Regions from separate parts of the Homo sapiens genome. Here region 1 is linked to region 2. The links come from fine-mapping of genetic effects on gene expression. A gene starts in region 2. The other region holds a variant in brackets. All regions are shown on one strand. Distances are between the middles of the regions. Region 1 overlaps GPSM1 (G protein signaling modulator 1). Region 2 holds the start of GPSM1 (G protein signaling modulator 1).

Evidence for each region. PIP is the estimated chance that this variant, and not a neighbour inherited with it, causes the effect.
Region 1: its variant is fine-mapped to the expression of GPSM1 in lung (TOPMed, PIP above 0.99).

Annotation. Positions count from the first base shown.
Region 1 is chr9:136,344,505-136,352,864 of GRCh38, reverse strand. It overlaps GPSM1 (G protein signaling modulator 1), which reads right to left. Exons shown (of 14, transcript NM_001145638.3): 10 at 4,098-4,168; 11 at 3,102-3,278. Among named protein-coding and RNA genes, the nearest start is that of DNLZ, 15 kb to the left of the region's middle. RefSeq lists enhancers at 1-148, 6,624-7,277, 7,278-7,931. The variant AT/T (reference allele first, on the strand shown) is at 5,134.
Region 2 is chr9:136,321,566-136,332,831 of GRCh38, reverse strand. It overlaps GPSM1 (G protein signaling modulator 1), which reads right to left and starts at 5,293. Exons shown (of 14, transcript NM_001145638.3): 1 at 5,069-5,293. The coding sequence starts at 5,136. It overlaps DKFZP434A062 (a long non-coding RNA gene), which reads left to right and starts at 5,509. Exons shown (of 1, transcript NR_026964.3): 1 at 5,509-10,530. RefSeq lists enhancers at 1-15, 4,073-4,601, 4,602-5,131, 7,661-8,289, 8,290-8,916 and a silencer at 6,165-6,459.

The DNA of each region.
Region 1 (8,360 bases), 21 kb before region 2:
AGCAGTGAACCTCCCCCTCCCCGTGCCTGTGGGCGGGCACACTGGAGGGCTGTGTGGGCAGACAGCCTGCCGAAGAGCCCTTTTCCCGCTGACACCTGGGCCCCTGGGCCTCCCTCCAGAGCTGGGCCAGGTGGGGAAAGCCACCTCTTTATTCAGCCTGACTACGGAGGCAGGCGCAGAGGACCTGGGCGGGTTGCTGTCCTCATCTGGACTCCTCTGTCCGGGACGGCCCTTCCTGTCCCACAGCCCTCGGTGGCTCCCCAGTGCCCTGGCTCAAGGGCCTCCCGGCCAGCTCAACTCAAGCCTCTGGTTGCTGCCTCTCTGTCTCATTCCTGGTTGGACCTACACTGTCTCCAGCCTCTGAGGCCAACCCTGCCCTGTCCCCTACCCTCCACCCCAGAATGAGTTCTCTGGACCCCCAGACCACACCCAGCCACACCGCCTCAGATCCCAAAGCCCCGAATGTGCTGGCTGCAAGGCCCCTGCACTGTCTGGGCACAGGGTGGGGAGGGGCAGGGGCTGGTTGGTCACCAACAGCAACGGCGCAGCATCGGTGTCACCAACAGCAACGGCGCAGCATCGGTGTCACCAACAGCAACGGCGCAGCATCGGTGTCACCAACAGCAACGGCGCAGCATCGGTGTCACCAACAGCAACGGCGCAGCATCGGTGTCACCAACAGCAACGGCGCAGCATTGGTGTCACCAACAGCAACGGCGCAGCATTGGTGTCACCAACAGCAACGGCGCAGCATTGGTGTCACCAACAGCAACGGCGCAGTATTGGTGTCACCAACAGCAACGGCGCAGTATTGGTATCAGCTGCACTTTGCAGATGAGGACCCCAACTGAGAGCTGAAAGCCCTTCCCTGAGGACCCCAGCAGAGGGGGAAGGGGGCCCACCCGGCCACTGACGCCCCAGGGATGTATCCCCCACCCACCCTCGCTGCAGTCCCCATACAGGCTGCCACCAGGGTGCAGACGGTCCTTACTCGGAGGTACCCAAGGTTCTGACCTCGGTAAGGCCAGTGGGGTTCAGGTCAGCAGAAAGCCAAGAGGCCCTGCCACGTCCTCACAGACCCTGGGAACCCCGTTTGTCTGGGGCCAGGATCTTGGCTGTCCCAGGCGTCCTGCCCCGCGGTGGTTGCAGGGGCCAGGGGAGCAGGGCCCGCAGCAGGTGGGGGCTCCCTGGGGCCCTGGCCAAGGCCTCCAGAGTGCTGGGCCAGGCAGCTGGACACTTGGAACTGTGTCCCCTTGCCCTGCTGGCCCAGACCCAGGGCAGTTTGTTGGGGTGACGTGAAGCCTGGAAGCCCTCAGAGGCTGTGCTTTCTAGAAAGCCATCAGCCCCTGAGGCCGGCTGACTGGTCTGTCCCACACATGCTGCCAGCCTCCCACTCCTTCCTTGGCGGCCCAGATGTGATGGGCAGAGCCAGCTGTGGACAGGGCAGACCCAGCTGTGGACAGGGCAGGGCCAGCTGTGGACAGGGCAGGTGTCTGGGTCCCAGTCCTGCTCCTCCCTCCAGGCCCAGGGAGGCTGGGGGATCACCGGGACCCCCGGGAAGGCCTGACCAGGTGCTCCCTGGGTGCCCTTCCCTCCACACCTCTCCCATCAGTGGACGGATGGACCTAGCCCAGATGGTTGGGCAGTGCTGGGGCTGAATGAGGGGAAGGTAGGCTGTGCCCTGCTGGTGGGAAGGATGGGCTTGGGCAGCCTCGGGGGGCTGCGAATCCCAGCCCAGCACCCACACCCCTCTGCAGGTTGGTGCCCACGGAAGAACAATTTCAGACTATTTCTAGTGGTTTGGACCCAGCCGTCCTGCTCGGGGGAGCTCCAGGCTGACCTCCGAACCCGGACTCGGCCCATCGGTGCCCCTGAACACCAACCAGCTCTCCCGTGGCTGGGGTGGCCCTGGCACAGCTGACACCTGCCAGGCACAGGCCCGGCCTGTCACCTGTCCCCCCACCAACCCCGAGTCTGACCACCAGTCTGTCTGTCCCCCGTCCGTCCACCCATACACTTGGCAGTCACTGCAACTGCCCCACCCCTCCCGCCACCTCTGTGTGCCACAGCAACGCGGGGGGCTCCTGGCTAGCCCTGAGGACCCGGGTGGCGCCCAGGCTGCGCTGCTGCTGCTTGCTGGGCTGTGACCCTCTGCTCCACTCGTGACCTTGAGCCCAGGTGGGGTAGGGCAGGGTGGGGCCTCCCAGCCCCTGACCAGGAGGAACCCTGAGTGGACCTAGCCCCTTGCTGTCCCCTCACCAGGGGCTCTGCAGCCATGCACAGGCCACCCAGCTGCATCCCCTCCATGACCCCACTCACCATCGGTCCTGCCCCGGCCCCTGCACCCACAAGGAGAGGCCCCAGTACCTTGGCCCAGCTGGAGCTGCAGGTGCTTCCACACCAGGGCCTGACCATGGGTGTGGCTTAGGGGCTTCCCACCCACCCCTTGGGTGCCCCTCAGGCCCCTCTGCTCAGGGACCCCCGCCAGGTGTCAGAGATCCCAGGATTCCCCCAGGGACTGTGTTGGCCTCGTCCACCCCTCCAGGGCCCTGGTAGGATACACAGGCTTGACCTCACTGGCCAGAGCCTCCAAGAGCCACCTCAGGAAGGGGCACCCCATCAGGGGATCTGTGCAGCCCGGCTCTCACAGTGAAGGCAGCCAGTTCCTTTCAGGGACACGCTCCTGTGACTAGCGGATGGGTCTGGAGGGTCCCAACAAAGGAGGGTGGGGGCTGGAGTCAGAGAGAGAGGCCACCTGAAGGCTGGGAAGAGCCAGCCCCCAACTGGTGAACAAGATGGAAACTGAGGCCCAAAGAGAGGCGGGGCGTTCCATGCAGAAGAGCCCAGCCTAGAGTCCCCAGGAGGCTCCTCGGTGGCCGGGGCCTCTGAGGCCAGGTGCGACCACAATGCTAAACACTGAGCCCTGCCCAGAGCCCCCACCGGGGTCCCAGGACAGCACTGCACCAGGTGCACCGGGGAGGGACCCCTGCCTCCCCGGAGTGCCCGGGCCTGACCTGGCCCCGTTGGCTGGCAGTGGAGTTGGGGCGCAGTTGCCAAGCTCTCCTCCCTCTCGGCCTGGATCTGCCGTCAAAGACGCCTACCGTGCGTGGCACGTGCACCCGGACGTCGGCGCTGTCCAGCGGGGAGTGGCTGCCCTCCCGGGGCCTCCTCTCAGCGTCCGGGCCTTCCTGGTACTTCCTGCTCCTCACGGGGAGGGGTAGCGAGTCCCTGCTGGGCCCCCGCCAGTCCCCTGAATGGTGGCTGTCTCCATTCTGCTCCTGGGGAGGGGTAAGGCTGTGCGTGGCCTGGGCAATTGTGAACCAATGTCCCCATCCCAGGACCCTGAAGGGAAGGCCAGGCCGCCTCCATTTCATGGATGCACGCCGTAGGTGCCCAGTACCCAGAGAGGAGGAGAGGACTGGGGCTGTGGGCCCTTGGCTGGGGCCGGGAGAGGCAGGGTGGGGTGTTTGAGGGCCAGTGGCCCCCGCAAATGTCAGCCGGCTTATACCAGCAATGACAGTGACTGTGGGCGTCCTTGGGTCTCGTCCCCACAGCAGAACCCTGACGGCCATCCACAACTGAACACAGGCCACACCAGAGGAACCAGAGGCTCAGAGAGATCAGGCTGCTGGCCCAGGCCACACAGCACCCACTGCCGACAGGCACAGGGCCAGCCCAGGGCCCTACGCCAGGCAGCCCCCGAATCTGTCTGTGTGGGTCTGCTGAACCCCAGCCAGTGTCTGCACCTGCAGCAGCTGTGCCCACTTTGGGTCAGAGTCCGAGAGGGCAGGGAGCAGGCAGGAGTGGGTGCCCCTGTCTGTGGGCTCCCGAGGGTGTGGTGGCATAGCAGCTGGGTGGAGTATGGGGGCCTGAAATGTGTGAGGACCATGCCTCGCCTGGGGCACAGCTGGCCAGACGCTGAGGGACATGGGTGAGCAGGTGGCAGATGGGCCATGCAGGGCATCAGGCCGAGGAGGGCACATTTATCTCCCAGCAGACAGGGGCTGAGGTGGGTGGCGGTGGCTCTGCCTCATTAACCCCGCTGCCCATGCTCTGGCAGCGGCTGTGCTGACATCGGTCCCGTGTCCCTGGCTCACCCGCTCCAGGGGGAGTCTCAGCAGGTCCCAGGTCTCCGCGCTCAGCCTCTGCGTCCTCTTGGGTCTGGCCCCTGAAGACAGAGGGACCCGGTCAGCCCAGCACCACCCTGGCACCTCGCATTGGGTGGGCCAGGCCAGAGTCTCTGGGGGGCCAAGGACCAGCCCGGCCATGGCTTTCTGACAGCCAGCCCCCCTTGTGGAGGCGAGCGCCATGTCTGAGTGTCCTCTGCGTCTCCCCGACTGTACTGTCAGAGTCAAAGGGGACAGGTGTCGAGACAGAGCGCGTCCTGGCTGGGGCCAGGTGGGGTCTGGCTTTGGCTCCCTGTGCTGGAAGGGCCCGGCTCTGGACAGGCCTCTCCCCTGCCGCACACAGGGCCTCCCCCGTCAGTCCTGCTGTTCCCTCTGCCTGGATCACCCTTCCTGTGGCCCCTGGTCACCTCTGTGAGGCCACCCAATCCCCCCTCCTGAGGGTGCATCATGCTGTGCCCCGGAGGCAGGTGGGGCGGGCCTGTGGGTCCACTCCCAGCTCACTGCGGGCAGCCCAGGCCAGGGTCGGGGACGCAAAGGCCTCAGATGAATCCCCCAGACCAGCTCTGCCGTGGGACCTTCCCCGGGCTCCTGTCCATCCCTCCTGGCCCGGGGCTCACCCTACTGGCCGTGTCTCCACCCAAGGGACCCCCATCCCCTCTAGCCGCAGTGGGGTGGTGGGGCACAGCTGCCTGACCCAACACTGGCCAGCTGCAGACTCAGCGGAGCCACCAGTGCCTGTCCCGGGCCCCTGGGAAGCCCCACAGCCAGGCCCACCTTCAAGCCTCAGTCCCAACACGGCCCTGGCAGAGACGGGTGTCACTCAGCCCTGTCCCAACACAGCCCTGGCAGAGACGGGTGTCGCTCAGCCCTGCGGGGCCCGAAAGGATTTGGGAGTTTGGGAGAGTGGGCCCTACCTCAGCCCAGCCGCTCCCTGAGCACTCTCAGGAGCCTGTATCCAGGGCACGACAGACCTGGCAGATCAGAAATCAGTTGGCGAACGGAAAAA[AT/T]GGGATGGAATCCGGGAAGTGGGGAATGTCCTCAACCAGGCAGGAAGCCCTGTGGGAAGGGCCCGATGCTGTGGCTGAGAGCCAGGGTCTGCGGGCGCTTCCCTGAGGAGGCGGCGGGACGGACAGGGGCACAGCCACTGTGGAAAGGGCAGCAGAACGTTCTAGGCAGAGGGGACGACGGCGGAACGAGGCTGACACTGAGGACCCTGTCTCTGCTGTCCCTACGCCTGGCACATCTCCAGGGAGACTCTCGCAGCTGGGAGGACCCTCATCCTCCTCCCTGCTCACCCACAGCTCCCACCCCCCTATGCCCACCCTTACCCAGTCTTCCTGGGAACCAAGCGTCCCTCCACCCGTGGACACACTGGACACGGGCTGTGCCCAGGAGCCCTGCGCACACCCAGTGTGAGTCCGAGGGCGGGGCCAGAACCAGCCCTGGCATCAGTGGGCACTCTGAGAATCCAGTCCTGGCACCTCCAGACCATCAGACTTGGCCCCATTACTACGCCTCGGAGCTCAGCGCCCTCCTCATCAGACTGCGCCGGCATGGATGGGCCGGGCCGGGCAGTTCCCCTCCGCACTCATCCCCCCGAGAGGCTCAGCTCCTAAAGTGAAGCTGCTTGGTGGCTGCCTGCATCAGGCAGATGTCGGGGGGCAGGCCCAGACACCCCCTTACCCTGTCCAGGCCCCACTGCATCAGGGAGCACAGCCACCAGGGTTGGGGCACTCGTCAAAGTTAGCAGCATGAATGGCCAGGCAGGGTGCCGGGGCCTCAGGTGCACCCGGACCCCACCGTTAGCCCTGGGTTCTGGGCCCTGCCGGGGAACACAACATCCACAGAGGGAGAGAGCCGGCTCAGGCGGGCAGTCACTCGGTCATTTCAGGCACTGGGCCCCACACACAGCCCCTCCCAGCCTCACCTGCACAGCTGTCACTCAGCCAACATCCCCCTGACCCCAGCCTCAGCAGGGCCCTGATTTAAATATGAGCCTGGCCCCGACCATGAGGGAGGGAGGAAATGGGCCCGAGTGTCAGGGTCTCTCAGGGTCTCCCTTACAGGCCCATGCTGCGGATGAGAACAGGCCTGGGTCTTGCTGGGGGGCTGCTGTCTGAGCATTGTGCCACCAAATGGAGTCCAAGCCTCCACCCCCAACTGGGAAGGGGGTCCTGCTGCCACCTAGTGAATGGCAGTGATGAGGATGCACTGGGGGCTTCAGACGGCTAAGAAGGCACCTGGTGGACAGCAAGGTGCTACCTATGGGGCAGAGGGGAGCCCCTGGATCGGCCTGGCTGCTAGCAGCCCCTTCCTGAGTCTGTCCATGTGACCCGTTTAAATGGTGAGCTCCTAAACGCAGCTGGGGGGAAGGGGACAGGAGCAGAGGGAGCTGAGGACTTGGGGGCCCAGGCTGGTCTTCCGCCTCCAGCCCGCTGGCCCCAGACCAGCCCACGGCGAATGCCTACAGCTTCATGAGAGCTGGGCAGGGACCGGGAACTGGCTGAGTGTGGGCTGTGCGCTTCCCTGGCCTGGCCTCTGGGCTCCGAGGACACACCCTAAGCTCCTGCTCTCCAGGGGCCTGGGATGGAAACCTGTGCGGCCAGAGGCACACGTGGGGCCCATCAGGGGCCTGAGCAGGACACTGGGACCTGGGGCCGTCCACTGCTCCTCCCACTCCCAACACAAACGCCCGGGGCAGGGCTCCCATCGCCACCCTGTGGCCACAGTGGTCAGCGGGATCAGGGTTAGCTCCGGCACATTCAGGATCCGGCCAGGCACTGAGGTGGAGCCGCCCCAGCCTCGGGTGGTGCAGCTTGAAGGGACAGAACGGGGCTGGGGTCGACGGCCTGTTCTCTGAAGGGCCACCAGCTGCCCACCCCCACCCAGATGAGCAAGGTAGCTCTGAGGACAGCTGCTGACCCCACACAGTTCGGGGCCTGCTCCCCACACCATGGAAATGACAGAGGAGCACGTCTGTGCTGGGGCGGGCCCTTCACTTACCACACCCAGCGAGAGCCCCGCTCCGTCTCCCGGTGTGCACTGCCTGAGGGCCTGGCTCTCCCTCTGCCGCCCCCAGTGCCATGGGGGCCTAAGTTGGTTTCCCCACCGCATCCTCCGGGTCCTGGGCCCGGCACAGCTGCTTCTGCCAGGCCTGGCCCTCCACCAGGACACCGCATGGATGGGCCCTGGCTGCAGCAGCGGCTGAAATGCTCTTCTGAGACACAGCCTGCGTCTGGCCCCAGGGCGGGCGCCCTCATGGCCAGGCACGGACGGTGGGCGGAAGGCCCGCTGCGCCTGGCTCAATGCACCCTCTGTCTGCAGAGTCGGCTGAGGCGTTGAGTGTGAGTCCAGCGCCCTTGGCTGAGCTGCCCAGACAGGCCCGGCCCACTGGCTTGGCTTCCTGTCTCTCCCGCCTGCGAGGGCAACGTTTGGAAACTTCTCCCAGCACCGCCCCATGGCCACCCGACGCTGACCGTCACACTGTCATCATCATTTCTGTCCTCACCCAGCTCCAGACGTTTATGTGCAATGGCCAACTCAAGCCCATCGAGCATCTTGGTGCCCCCTGTGCCTGCCGGACCCCTCAGGGCAGCACCCGCCCCGCCGGCTTGGCTCAGACCTCAGCAACCCCGATTTTCAGCTGCCCACGGTTCCTTCACGCCCACCTCTGGTCTGAAATCCAGTCTGTCCCCGCCTCACTGCAGATCCAGAGTCCCACCCCTCCTCACCTCCCTGGAGCCGGATCACCTGCCCCTCACCTGCCTGCTGCCCCAGCCTTGCCCCTAAGTCCCCTCTCCATGCAAGGACCATGGGGTTGGTAAGGGCTGGCCTAGGCCTTGCCCCTTCTCTGCTGGGTCCTGAGGGCCCCGCCCCATTGGGGAGGGGGTCTCACACAAGGGCCCACGAGGCCCTCCCTTCTTCGGCCAAGGCCCTCGCCTTGCTCCGTCAGCTCCAGACAGTCTCCCTGTCCCTTCACCTACCAGGCTGGCCCCTGCCTCAGGCCCTTTGCACAGGCTGTTATCTCTGCCCAGACTGCTGTTCCTCCGTCTAAGCTTGCGGCTCACTTCTCTCTGACTTCCAGTCTTTGCTGGAGCATCATGATCAAAGCCCTAACTCCCCATGGGATGGTGTTAGGAGGTCCTGAGGTTTACATGAGGTCATGAGAATGGAGCCCCATAATGACAAGTGGCCTTAAGAGAAGCCACCAGTGTTCTCAAGCTCCCCCTTCTT
Region 2 (11,266 bases):
TGGGGGTCTCACTATGTTGCCCAGGCTGGTCTCAAACTCCTGAGCTCAAGTGATCCTCTCACCTCAGGGCCAGGCCCTCCCACCCACTACCTGCCAGGCACCTCACAGCCACCTCACCCATCCCTCTGGGAATGGCCATCCGGATGCCACGTGGGTCACAGGAGCCCACCGTCGCCATGACAACCAGCCAAGCCCCATCCTGCAGCCAGCGCCACGCACGGGGCTTCCTGATTAAGGCCCACTTGCCCCACCCAGCCACTTTTCAAGTGGTCTCACTCGGTTTACTGCCCCCTCCTTCCAGGCAACATCGGAGGAGAGGGGCTTCAGGCCTGAGGCCTGGGTGTCTGTGGAGCCCAGACGCTGCTGCTCCGCAGATCTGATGATGGGAGCCACCTCCCGCCTCCCTTCCAGCCGGAGACGTGGCATCCGAGGCTCAAGGCGAAGGAGGCTTCTGGCCTGGGAAGGGCCTGGGCCTAAAAGTCGGGGATGGGTGCACGGATGGGCCTCTGTCATTCTGCACCTCCAATCTGGGATCCAGGCAATGCAGCCAGCCACCTGCAGCTGCACCAGGTGGGTGTCCCCTCCACTCATCCCAAGACAGCCTCCAACCACGCCCTGGCACCCACACCCACGTGACCACCCCACTCGCTGCCCGCCGCACCTCTTCCTCTGCAGGTTTCGCATCTTCTGCACGTAGAGCCACAGCTCCAGGCCCACGGGCAGCAGCAGCGGGCGGGGGCGGGGGGCGCCATACACCACCTTGCACACGGCCTTCTCCGCCAAGCTCAGGGCCAGAGGCGGGCCCTCCCCAGCAGGGGATGGCATCGCCAGGCCCCAGGCCCTCCTCCCCCAAGCCAGCCCTCGCCCCACCATGGCCACGGGTCCTGGGGGGTGGGCTGGCCTTAGGCTTCCCTGCCCTCTGACCTCCAGGATGGTGGGTTTAAAGCTCGGCGGGGGACTGCCAGTCCTCCAGCAGGTGCTCGGGGGCCTCCCCAATCCCTGACGTGGATCAAGGGATCAAGGACAGCTCAGAGGCTGGGTCAGCCTCGTCAGCAGCGGGGCGGGGAGCCCTGGGGTAATCCCGTCCAACGTGCTCCTCCAGGGACTGGGACCAGCGGCATTGCCCTCCCGTCAGTCACCCGCCAACTCCTCTGCAAACGTTTATCCAGTTCCCAGCGGGGGCTGCTCTGCCCCAGGACCGGGCTCACTCGGGAGCGCCAGGCACGTTTGTGAATGGAAAGAGGAATGGCGTCCAGAGTGTGTGAGTGCCCCCAGCCCAGCACCTCTTCCCCCAGGCCTGGCCCAGGGCTGGGCAAAGCTGGAATTCTGCGCAGTGGTGGCCCCTGGCCGCCTACCGGTTCTCCAGGCCCCTGTGCCTCCTCTGCTCCACCCGACCCCACCTGGCCCCCTCCCCAGCCTCCCTGGCACCAGCCCACGGTGCCAGCATGGGGCAGCGGGGGGGGGGGGCTCAGAGTCCTCACCATGCCAGCCCCACGTCTGCCGGGCCCTCTGTGCTCTCCCTCACCTGACTGGCCAAGGTGCGAACAGGGCCCCAGGTCTGACGGGGTCAGGGCCACGTGGGGCCTGGGGGATGCCGCTCCCCAGGTCGTGGGGCTTGGGAGGCATGGACCACGTTCCCCTAGCCTGGCTCCTTTCCTCAAACTTCCCAAGCCCCCGGCGTCCTTCTCAGCTGGGCTCCCAGCTTCTCCAGCCACCTGTGGCCCATGAGGAGGCTGGAACCTGACAGAGGCGGGGGACTGGGGGGGCAGGTCTTATCCCTGAGACGGCCACGGGGTCTGAGCAGAGGCAGGAATCCAAGGACAGGTGGGGGTCTTCAGGCCCTGGGCTCTCTCCTCCTTACCTTGAGGCCTTGTGGGCTCAGGGGTCCTACTCAGGCCAGACCATTTGTCCACCTTCAGGACAGCTTGGCCAAAGGCGGGGCAGGACCTAGAATGCCTCTCCCTTGCCCAGTCCTCGTCAACAGACTGAACCCTCAGACCCTCCGTGGTGGCTGGGGTGCCATCACCAAGGCCAGTTCCCAAGCCAGCACTGCAACTCCTACTACCTCCGGCCACCCGAAAGCCGTGTCCCTCAGTCCCAGCCCTGCTAACAGAATTGGCACCTGCCCCTCCCCAAGGCCGTCACCTACATGCTGGCCCCTGAGCAGATGCTGAAGAGACTCTGCTCACAGCTGGCTCTATCTGCCCCATCCCCCAGCCAGACACCCCCAGGGAAAACCACACCGACTCCCCTTCAGTGGCCAGGGGAGGGGAGAGAGTGAGGCGCAGGACCGGGCTGGGAGCACAGCGGGAGCTGGAATCACTGGAGAGGGGACTGAAGGTCACCCAGCTGTAGGAAGCACCTGGGGTCAGGCTTGCCAGGAATTCCTAGGGCCCGTCGCTGCCCAGCGACCCACCAGGGATGGTGCCCAGGACGGGGACAGGGGAGGGAGGAAGGATGGAGTGAAGGTAGGGGGTAGCATGGCCATGTGGCCAGAGAGGTTGCGGGGGGCCCAGTCCACACCTGAGGACGTCCTGTCTGGGAGCTGGTGACTGCTGCTTGGAGGGCATCTCTAACAGGGTCACCCCAAGGTGGGTGGCTCTGCTGCCCCTTCCCGGCCCCAGCCCCGGGGAGCACTCAGCTGGCCTTAAAGCAGGTGGGAGGCCAGGAGACGACCACCCAGGGTTTCCCCACTTTCCGGGGCCTTCTCAGCCACTGGCCTGTCCCCGCCAGGCCTCTTCACCCCAAAGCCCTGCTCTGGGCCAGGGAGCCCCTGGCAAGTGGGCCAGAATTCTGAGCATTAACTGTAGCACCCAGGGCCCTGTCCCCACCGACCCAGCACCCAGGGCCCATCCCCACTGACCCAGAACCCAAGGGCCCGTCCCCACCGACCCAGCACCCAGGGGCCCGTCCCCACCGACCCAGCACCCAGGGCCCCGTCCCCACCGACCCAGCACCCAGGGGCCCGTCCCCACCGACCCAGCACCCAGGGCCCCGTCCCCACCGACCCAGAACCCAGGGGCCCGTCCCCACCGACCCAGCACCCAGGGCCCCTCAGGGTACCCAGTGGGCTCATGGGCACATTCATGGGCCTCGCTGTCAGTGTGTTTTCCAGGCACAGTTCCCCATTTTAAAAGCTGAAACTCCTCTCTCCAGGAAGGAATGTCAGTGTGGGAAGGCAGTAGACGGGGCAGAGGAGACCTTGGGCCAACCTGGAGCCCCATCCACATTGAGGGACCCCAGTACAGCCACGTGAGGAGTGCCCACACGGATTCCGCCCACCTCCAGGGCATCCACATGCCCACCGCCCACGCCAGCAGGTGGGCCGCCCCCAGCACTCGGGTTTCAGGAGACAGGAGACTTTTCCGTGTCTTGCTCTCCAGCCCCAGCATGACAGCAAAGGGCCCTCCCGTCTGGCCCGCAGCTTCCACTGGCCCAGAACACGTCTAGGCATCCATGCTCTGAAGCCAGCTCCGACCAGGAACCGCCTGCCCAAACCGGGCTGTGGCTACACGGTGGGGTGCAGACTCCCGGGGGGACCTCGTCACAGGCCCTGCTGGAGGGCTTGGCGCGCTTCCCCCAAGTCTGGGCCTGACTCCACCCTGGAGCTCAACTGGACTCCCTGCTTAGGGGGATGCAAGGCTGGGTCTGGGGTCTCTCTGAGTGGTCCCCCTGAGCACTGCCCCTGCCAGGGGCTGGCTCCTGCCTGGCGTGTCCCCAGGGGACCCCAGGCTTCTAGCTGTAGCCTGGAGAATGCCCAACTCTATGGTCAGCTGTGCAGGCCTCACCCAAGGCTAAGGTCTTGGACACCCGTCTCTCACAGCTCCACACACACACTCTCTCACAGCTCCACACACTCACACTCAAACTCACTCCAGCCAGGGCTGCTATCCATCCCCCTCACAGCACGGCCGCCCTGGAGCACATGCGGCCCTGCACAGCCGATCAGATCAGCGGAGGAAACCCTTGAAAATCCTTTAGGGCAGGCCCCTGGCAGCAGCTGCCAGCAAAATCACCCTCACGCCCCTCCCCTGCGTGGGGCCCAGGAGCCAGGCTAGGGGCTCAGCGCTCCATCCAGGACGGCACAATGGGGCTGTGTCTGGGACCAAAGCAGAGAGCAGACCGGAGGCAGCAAGGCCTCTGTCCGCCGTGCCGCCACCAGTACCTCATTTCGGGTGCCCCAGGCAGAGGCTTGCTGCTTGGCTGGGGCCAGAGAATCCTTGGGGGCCAGGCTAGGCGCCCCCCGGGATCAGCTGCTGGGACCCCTATCAGGGAGGTCACCAGGTTTTAGGGATGTCCAGAGGACAATAGTGTCCCTCGCTCTGGGGAGCCAGGCCTGCCTCTGACGGCTGCCACCCATTCGCAAGCCCCTGCCTGGACCTCACGCTCGTGTGGCTCTGCCTGAGGCCTGGTACCACCCAGCCTTGCTTGGGGCTCCAGGCACCTGCCCGGCTGGGCCCAGGGCAGCCCCTGGGGGGACATTGGGAGTCACCAGGCAGGCATGCCACCTGGGGCAGGGCCACCCTGTCATCCCCAAAGGCGTGGGGCACAGAGCCCAGTCACTGGGATCACCCAGGAATGTGCCCGGAGAGTAGATGCCTTTTCAGGCAGGTACACACCCACCTGGCTGGCTCCCTTCCAACCCAGCTGGATCCCACTGGGCTCGTGGAGGGCTGGTGAGGGGCAGAGCCCCATCCAGAGCAGCCAGGTCTCTTTGGCCATGATGCCCCTGAGTGCCCCGGGCATGGCAGGGCCAGGCTTGGGAGGGAAGCACCCCACGGTGCCCCTGCCAGGTGCCAGGGGAGTGAGGCTGGAGAAGCTGCCCACCCCGCCTCCAGCCCCCCGGCCCCCCACCCCCTTCCCCTTGGCTTGGGGGAAAGAGGGCTTCAGGGGACGCCCACGCGGGCACACGCCGGGCTGGGCTCGGCCTGGAGGGAGGGGCGCGTCCTCAGCCACGCTGCGCGCCCGCGAGAGCTGCCTTTGTTCCCAACTGCAGCCTCCCCCGCGTCCCGACCCGGCCCGGTCCGGTCCCAGCCCCGGCCCCGGCCCCGGCCCCGGCCCGTCCTACCTGGAGTAGAGGCGCCTGGCGGCCGGGCCCGGGAGCTCGTCGGCCGCGGGCGGGGCCGGGCCCGCCATGGGTCGGGGACGCGGGAGCGGGAGCCGGGAGCGCCCCCCGCGCCGTGGCCGTCCGCCCCCTGCCCGCCCTGCTGTCCTCCCTGCTGTCCGCCCTGCTGTCCGCCTGTCCGTCCGCGCCTCGTTCGCCCGTCCTCCCCCGGGGAGGCGCCGAGGAAGTGATGTGCGCGGGGCGCCGCCGCCCCTCCCGCCGCCGTGGCCGTGATGTCACCGCCGCCCGCGCGGGGAGGGGGCGCGGACCGGGCGGCCACCGCCGCGTGCCTCCCTCTGCGGGGGGCGGGGCGGACGCGGGGGGAGGGGCGCCGTGAGGCGGGCAGTCCCCGGGGAGGGGGGAGGGGGGAGGGGGTGTGGGCCCCAGCCCACCCCACCCCAGGGAATGCAGGGGAGAGGGCCTGGGCCTGGCCTTGCTGCTGGTCCCCTGGGGACTTCTGAGGGCCCGCGGGGGTCCCTGGGTCACAGTGCAGCCACACTGGCCTCTGGGCTCCTTTCATCCACAGGCCGCCTGGTGAGCCCCGCAGCCTCACCCACGTGGGGAGGGGCTGCTGAGGCCTCCTTGCCTTTCTTGGTGGGCGCCCTACGCCTCGGGGGTCCTACCCTCCTCTTCTGTGCAGCCCCAACGTGGCTTTGCCCCCTTCTCCAAACTTCTGCCTTGGGCCATGGGGCGCAGGCCGTGGGGATGCTGTCTGCCTGCTTTAGAGAAACCTGGGGCACCGATGACAAATACAGGCTCTGCTTGGCCTGTGGGACGGTTGGTAAGCCCCCCACCTCTGAGACCCTGGGTGGCCACATTCCCCTCCCAAGCTCCCCCGGAATGGGGATGCAGCCTGCCCCTTCCTTCCTCCTGGGCACTGTGCAGGCTTAGGGAGGATGCAGGTGGCACAGTAGGCTGTGCCCACCCGGGGTCCCGGGACCCCAGCCCCTACCGCCTCCTCCTCCTCCTCTGAATTCTTGGAGCCCTGTGGGCCTATGTGGTGTGACGTGGCTTCCCCTCCACCCACCCTCAGCTCCCGATGGCTTGGGGGGTTCTCCGCAGCCAGCGAGGCCCACAGCCGGCCTCCCCGGGTTCTGTCCTGCCCCCGACAGCATCCTGGGCCTTCCGGTGGTGTCAGGAGACTCCAGGCCCTTGAAAGGCAGCTGCGACCCCGGGTATGACTCGGAGAAGTCCAGGAGCAGGAAATGGGCTGCATTCCTTCGGGGCCCCTCCGTGCACCCCAGCCCCTCCCTGGGAGAGCTGCCCTGAGGTCAGGAAAGTGCCGTCCTGGCAAGACCCTCAGCAGCTGCCGCCCACAGGACAGTCAGCGTTTTCAAGCATGGGAAGGAAAATAAACACGAGGTTAAAAAGGGGTCTGTTGGCCCCGGGCTGGTTTGTTTTTCCTGTGTAAGGGAGGCAACGGGAATGAGAACCATCTGTGCCCTGAGCGCAGCGCAAGCTGCCTGCTGGGCCCACGTGCCCTCCCCCAAAGACCACAGAAGCCAGGCAGAGCCTTGCTCCCTTCCAGCCGGGGCCGTGGCTGCTGGCCGGCAGGGACAGTGGTGTTGGCTGGGGCACCACCCTCCTTTGCCACAGCCCTGGGCCTGGCTGCGGGCAGAGAACAGGCCTTCGATTGAAGCTCCAACCTTCCGGGCCACCTCCTTTGGGCTTCGGGCACCTGAGCCAGCATCCCATTGTAAGGGCAGGGGCTGCTGGGGGCCCTGCCTGTGCCAGGCCTCAGCTCAGCCCTCTTTCCCCAGGCGCTGCTGCCATCAGGAGGCCCACAGAGGGTCCACACCAACACTGTGAGCCCCTTGTGGGTCCCCTGGGTTAGTGGTGGGAGGCTGGTGAAGAGAAGTGGGGACAAAAGACATTGCACAAATGGTGGAGGGAGGGAGAGATTTGCAGCCTCGTAGCTGTCATTGCTGGGGGAGCTTCTCCTGGTCTCCTTCCTTGATGCAGAGAGCTGGGAGCTTGTGTCCCTGGGCCGGGAGAGCCCCAACATTATATCAGAACTTGTGGGGAAACCTGCACCCCCGAGGGCTCTGGCTTTGTTAGGCCGAGCTGGGCTATGAGGCTGTGTGACCTGGCACAAGTTGCTTTCCCTCTCTGAGCCTCGGTTCTGTCACCTGAGGGCTGCCCGTCCCGCAAGGTGTGGAGGGTCACTGAGGCGTGGGGTTTCTGCGGTGCTTGTCCATGTGCCTGGCACACAGTGGGGTTTGTGCAGTGCTTGTCCATGTGCCTAGTGGCTCACAGTGGGGTTTGTGCGGTGCTTGTCCGTGTGCCTGGCACACGGTGGGGTTTGTGTGGTGCGTGTCCATGTGCCTGGCACACAGCGAGAGCTGCTGGGGTCATGTTGCTCTCACACTCGTGCCTGCCCCTGCTGGGCCCCTGCAGTGGGTCCTGGCTGGATTGGGGGTACATCCCCACCACACTGCACAGAGGGGCGTCTCCTCCTATCCAGGGACCTGATTCTCCTGTCGAGAAAACCTATGAAGGGGACCCAGAGATGGAGTGTGACAAGGCCAGGTGACAGGCCTGACATGTGGTGTCCACATCCAGAAGGGAGACCCTGGAGGGATGACCCTCCACTGCCACCCCCTCCCATCAGGCTCTGGACACCCTCGAGCCTCCCACCATCCACCTTACCAGATCCCCCCAAGAGTCCGGGAAGCTCACTCCCCCAGGGGACCAGGAGCACAGCCCCTTCCATTCCTAACGGGCCTGACTCCCAAAGGGGGGTGAGGAAAGAAAAAGCCATTTCACATCGACTTATTCTTCTGGCCCCAGGCAGCAGCACAGGGCGCAGGGTGGGCCTCTGCAGACACGATGGCTCCGTGGTCAGGGAGGGGCCACCTCCCATGTGCCTGGGGAGGGGCCCTCCCAAGCCCCTGCGTGGCAGCGCCAAGGGGTTGGAGTCAGCCCCAGCACACACAGGGCCCTGCTCACTGGTGGCCATTGTCAGCGCCACCTCCACCTTCAGGAGCCTGCCACGTGCCTGCCCTCGGTCACTTAGCCCTCCCTGGCACGCACCACTTTGTCCACACACCCTGTGTGTAAGTGGTGACAGCGGTGACAGCTCAGGCGTCACCTGATCGGGCCGACTCTAAGCCTTAGTCCTTCCTTGTCCTGTTGCGCCGGACAAGCCTCTGGGAGGCGACGGTGGGACAGCCACAGGGTTCTTGGCTCAGCCCCCAGGAGTGGGGAGCTGGGGCTCTGGACGGAGGTGGGCACTCGAGGCTGGTGTGGCCTCCTGGGTGAGGGCCAGGCTCGGGAGAGGCAGCCAGGCGGCCCCAAGCCACCCCAGGAACAAAGCACCAGCACACACCTCCACTGGTTTGCTAGGGCTGGGAGAAGTTGGAGTGTTTCTGTGGTGGCTGTGGCAGCCCACGGCCCCAAGACCCTGGCTTCCTTCTGCTCCCACCTTTTCAGGCCCCTTCCCCAACAAGCAGCTACTGTAGGACCCAGTGGGGGCTAGGGCACCAGCAGCTGCCATTACCCATGCTGGGTCCTGATGGTTCCTGACCAGCCTCAACCGTGGATTCCAAGCTGGGGAAGGAAGAAGCAGGCCGGGAGTGGGGAGGGAGACAGTGAAGGACACCCAAACACACACACACACACACACACACACACACACACACACACACACACAGAAGGAACAGTTTCAGCTTTGTTTCCCAGTAATCTCACTTAAAAAGAACACTTGGGTTTACCATGTTCACATAATCTCGTTGCTCTGAGAATGAACTTATTCTTCCTCCCAGCTTGGCCATGTGTTCCTCCCCATTGCCCAAGTCCCCTCATGACATCATCTCCCACTGCCATGTCCTTTCCTTGGGGACCTCCAAGTCCCTGGAGTTTGGGGACTGCAGGGTGGGTGGAGGGGCCCACAAGCTCTGCAGGGAGCCAGAAGGAAACGGTCTGTCCCACCCCAGGGCTGAGCACCTCGCTGGGAGATGATACCCACACCTGGAAATAGCTCAAGGGCCGCGTGAGGCCGCACGACACCCACGCCAGTATGAGACACCTGGCCATGCGGCATTCCTGGCCGACTGCTGGCAGCTGCAGACTTTGTCAGCCAGGTGATGTCCCCGGGATCTCTGGGCAGGCAGGGCACACAGGAGGCAGCTCACGCTCACTCATCATGGCGAGGCAGGTCGTGTGGAACTTCCTTGGTCTTCCTCATCTGCGCCCCACCCAGCCTGGCAGATGGTGATGCTGTGAGTGCCAGGGAAACACACACACGCACACACACACACATGCACACATGTACAGACAGGTGCACATGCCTGGGAGAGTCTGTGCTGCTCAGCTTCCGAGGGCAGCTCCCCAGGTCTCCCCCCGGGTCTGCGGTGGGAGGCGAGTCTTTTAACATCAGCTCAAACCAAACAGGATGAGGAGGGCAAATCGGCCGTCCCCAGTAAATCCTAGGGAGTCCCTCCAAGGCAAACAGAAAATGCACCCCAGCTTTCGCTTTTAGGGGTTTGAGTTGCGAGTTTCCAGTCTGCGGAGTGCGATGGCCGGGTGTAAGTCTGAAACCCTCTGGGGGAGAGAAGCCGCACAGTGCAGGGGTACACATCCCAGATCCACTCCCCAGCTGTGAGGCCCAGGCGCATTCCGCGTTCCCCGCCCATCTCCACCTCCGAGGGTTGCGGGAGGCTGAGCAGTTAGAACCGTGGCTGGCATACGGAGGGCACTCGGTAAACGTGGCTGTGCTGAGCTGTGGGCCTCGAAGGAGTCTCGCGGGGCTGCTGTACCAATGACCTTGCACTGGGTGGCCTAAAACAACATGTGTTTCCTCACAGCTCGGGGGACCAGAGCTCAGAATCTGGGGGTCACAGAGGAGGGTCCATGCTCATCCAGGTCAGCTCTAGGGGCTGCAGGCCACCCCTAATCTAGGATGGTCTTATGTTGAGGTCCTTAATTACATCCACAAAGACCCTTTCCCCAAATAAGTCCCCACGCACAGTTCCCAGGGACAGCCTCTGGGGCAGCATCACCACCCACTCAGTCCTCCATGCACCCCCTTGCGCTATCACGTAACTTGGATCAGGTCCACGCGTGTGGCTTTGCGGCTTTCCTTTGTCACAGCGTGTCACAACTGTTTTCCCGGGTGTCACTGCTGTGGTTTGAGTTTGTGTGTCCCCAGCCTTCATATGTTGGAACCTGAGACCCAAGAAGATCGTTATAAGACGTGGGGCCTTTGGAAGGTGATTAAGTCACCAGGGTCCCCATTGAAGCGCTTGGGAAGCCATCGAGGCCCCCTCCCCTTTGTCCTCTCACCTTCCGCCGGGAGAGGACACAGCAAGAGGCACCCACTGGGAGGCAGAGAGCAGCCCCCACTCCCACTGAGGCTGCTGGCACCGAGACCCTGGACTTCCAGCCTCCAGAAGCGTGAGAAATAAATGTCTATTGTGTGTCAATGACCCCGGCTCAGGTGTTTTGTTACGGCAGCAGGAATGGACTGAAATGCATCACTGAAAGGTCTTCACGGCCAGGCACAGAAGCTCACGCCTGTAATCCCAGCACTTTGGGAAGCACTCAGCGTTTGAGGCCAGTAGTTTGAGACCAGTGTGAGCAACACAAGGAGATCTTGTCTCTACAAAAAAAAAAAAAAAAAAAAAAACTTTAAAAATTTAGCCAGGCATGATGGCACATGCCCGTGATCCCAGCTACTGGAGAGGCTGAGGCAGAAGGATCGCTTGAGCCCAGGAGTTTGAGGCTGCAGTAAGCTGTGATCCTGCGGAGTCAGATCTTGTCTCAAAAAACAAATTAAAAACTCTCCTCAAGCATAACAGGGGCCGTATCCAATTCACGCTGTGGATGTACCACTGTCATTTAGCCAGGTCCTGGCAGGTGGACACCAGGCTGTCCCCTTTCTCCCATCCCCTTGTCGGGGAGAACACCTGTGTCTCTAGGCGCGCAGGGGCCAGCAGAACCACAGCTCCTAGCCCGGGGCCGACGCGGCTGACGCACAAACACCGTTGAACACTGAGAGAGCTTTTTTCCGGGAGGGCCCTGTCCGTCTAGAATGTCGGGGAAGTTCGTCTCTCTGGCCGTGAGGGACCCGGCTCCTGGGCTCAGCCACCGTGCCTTTGAGGGGACAGCACGTTTCAGTCATGGCCTGCAGACAGCCTTGGGACTTTCCTCCAGTGGAGACTC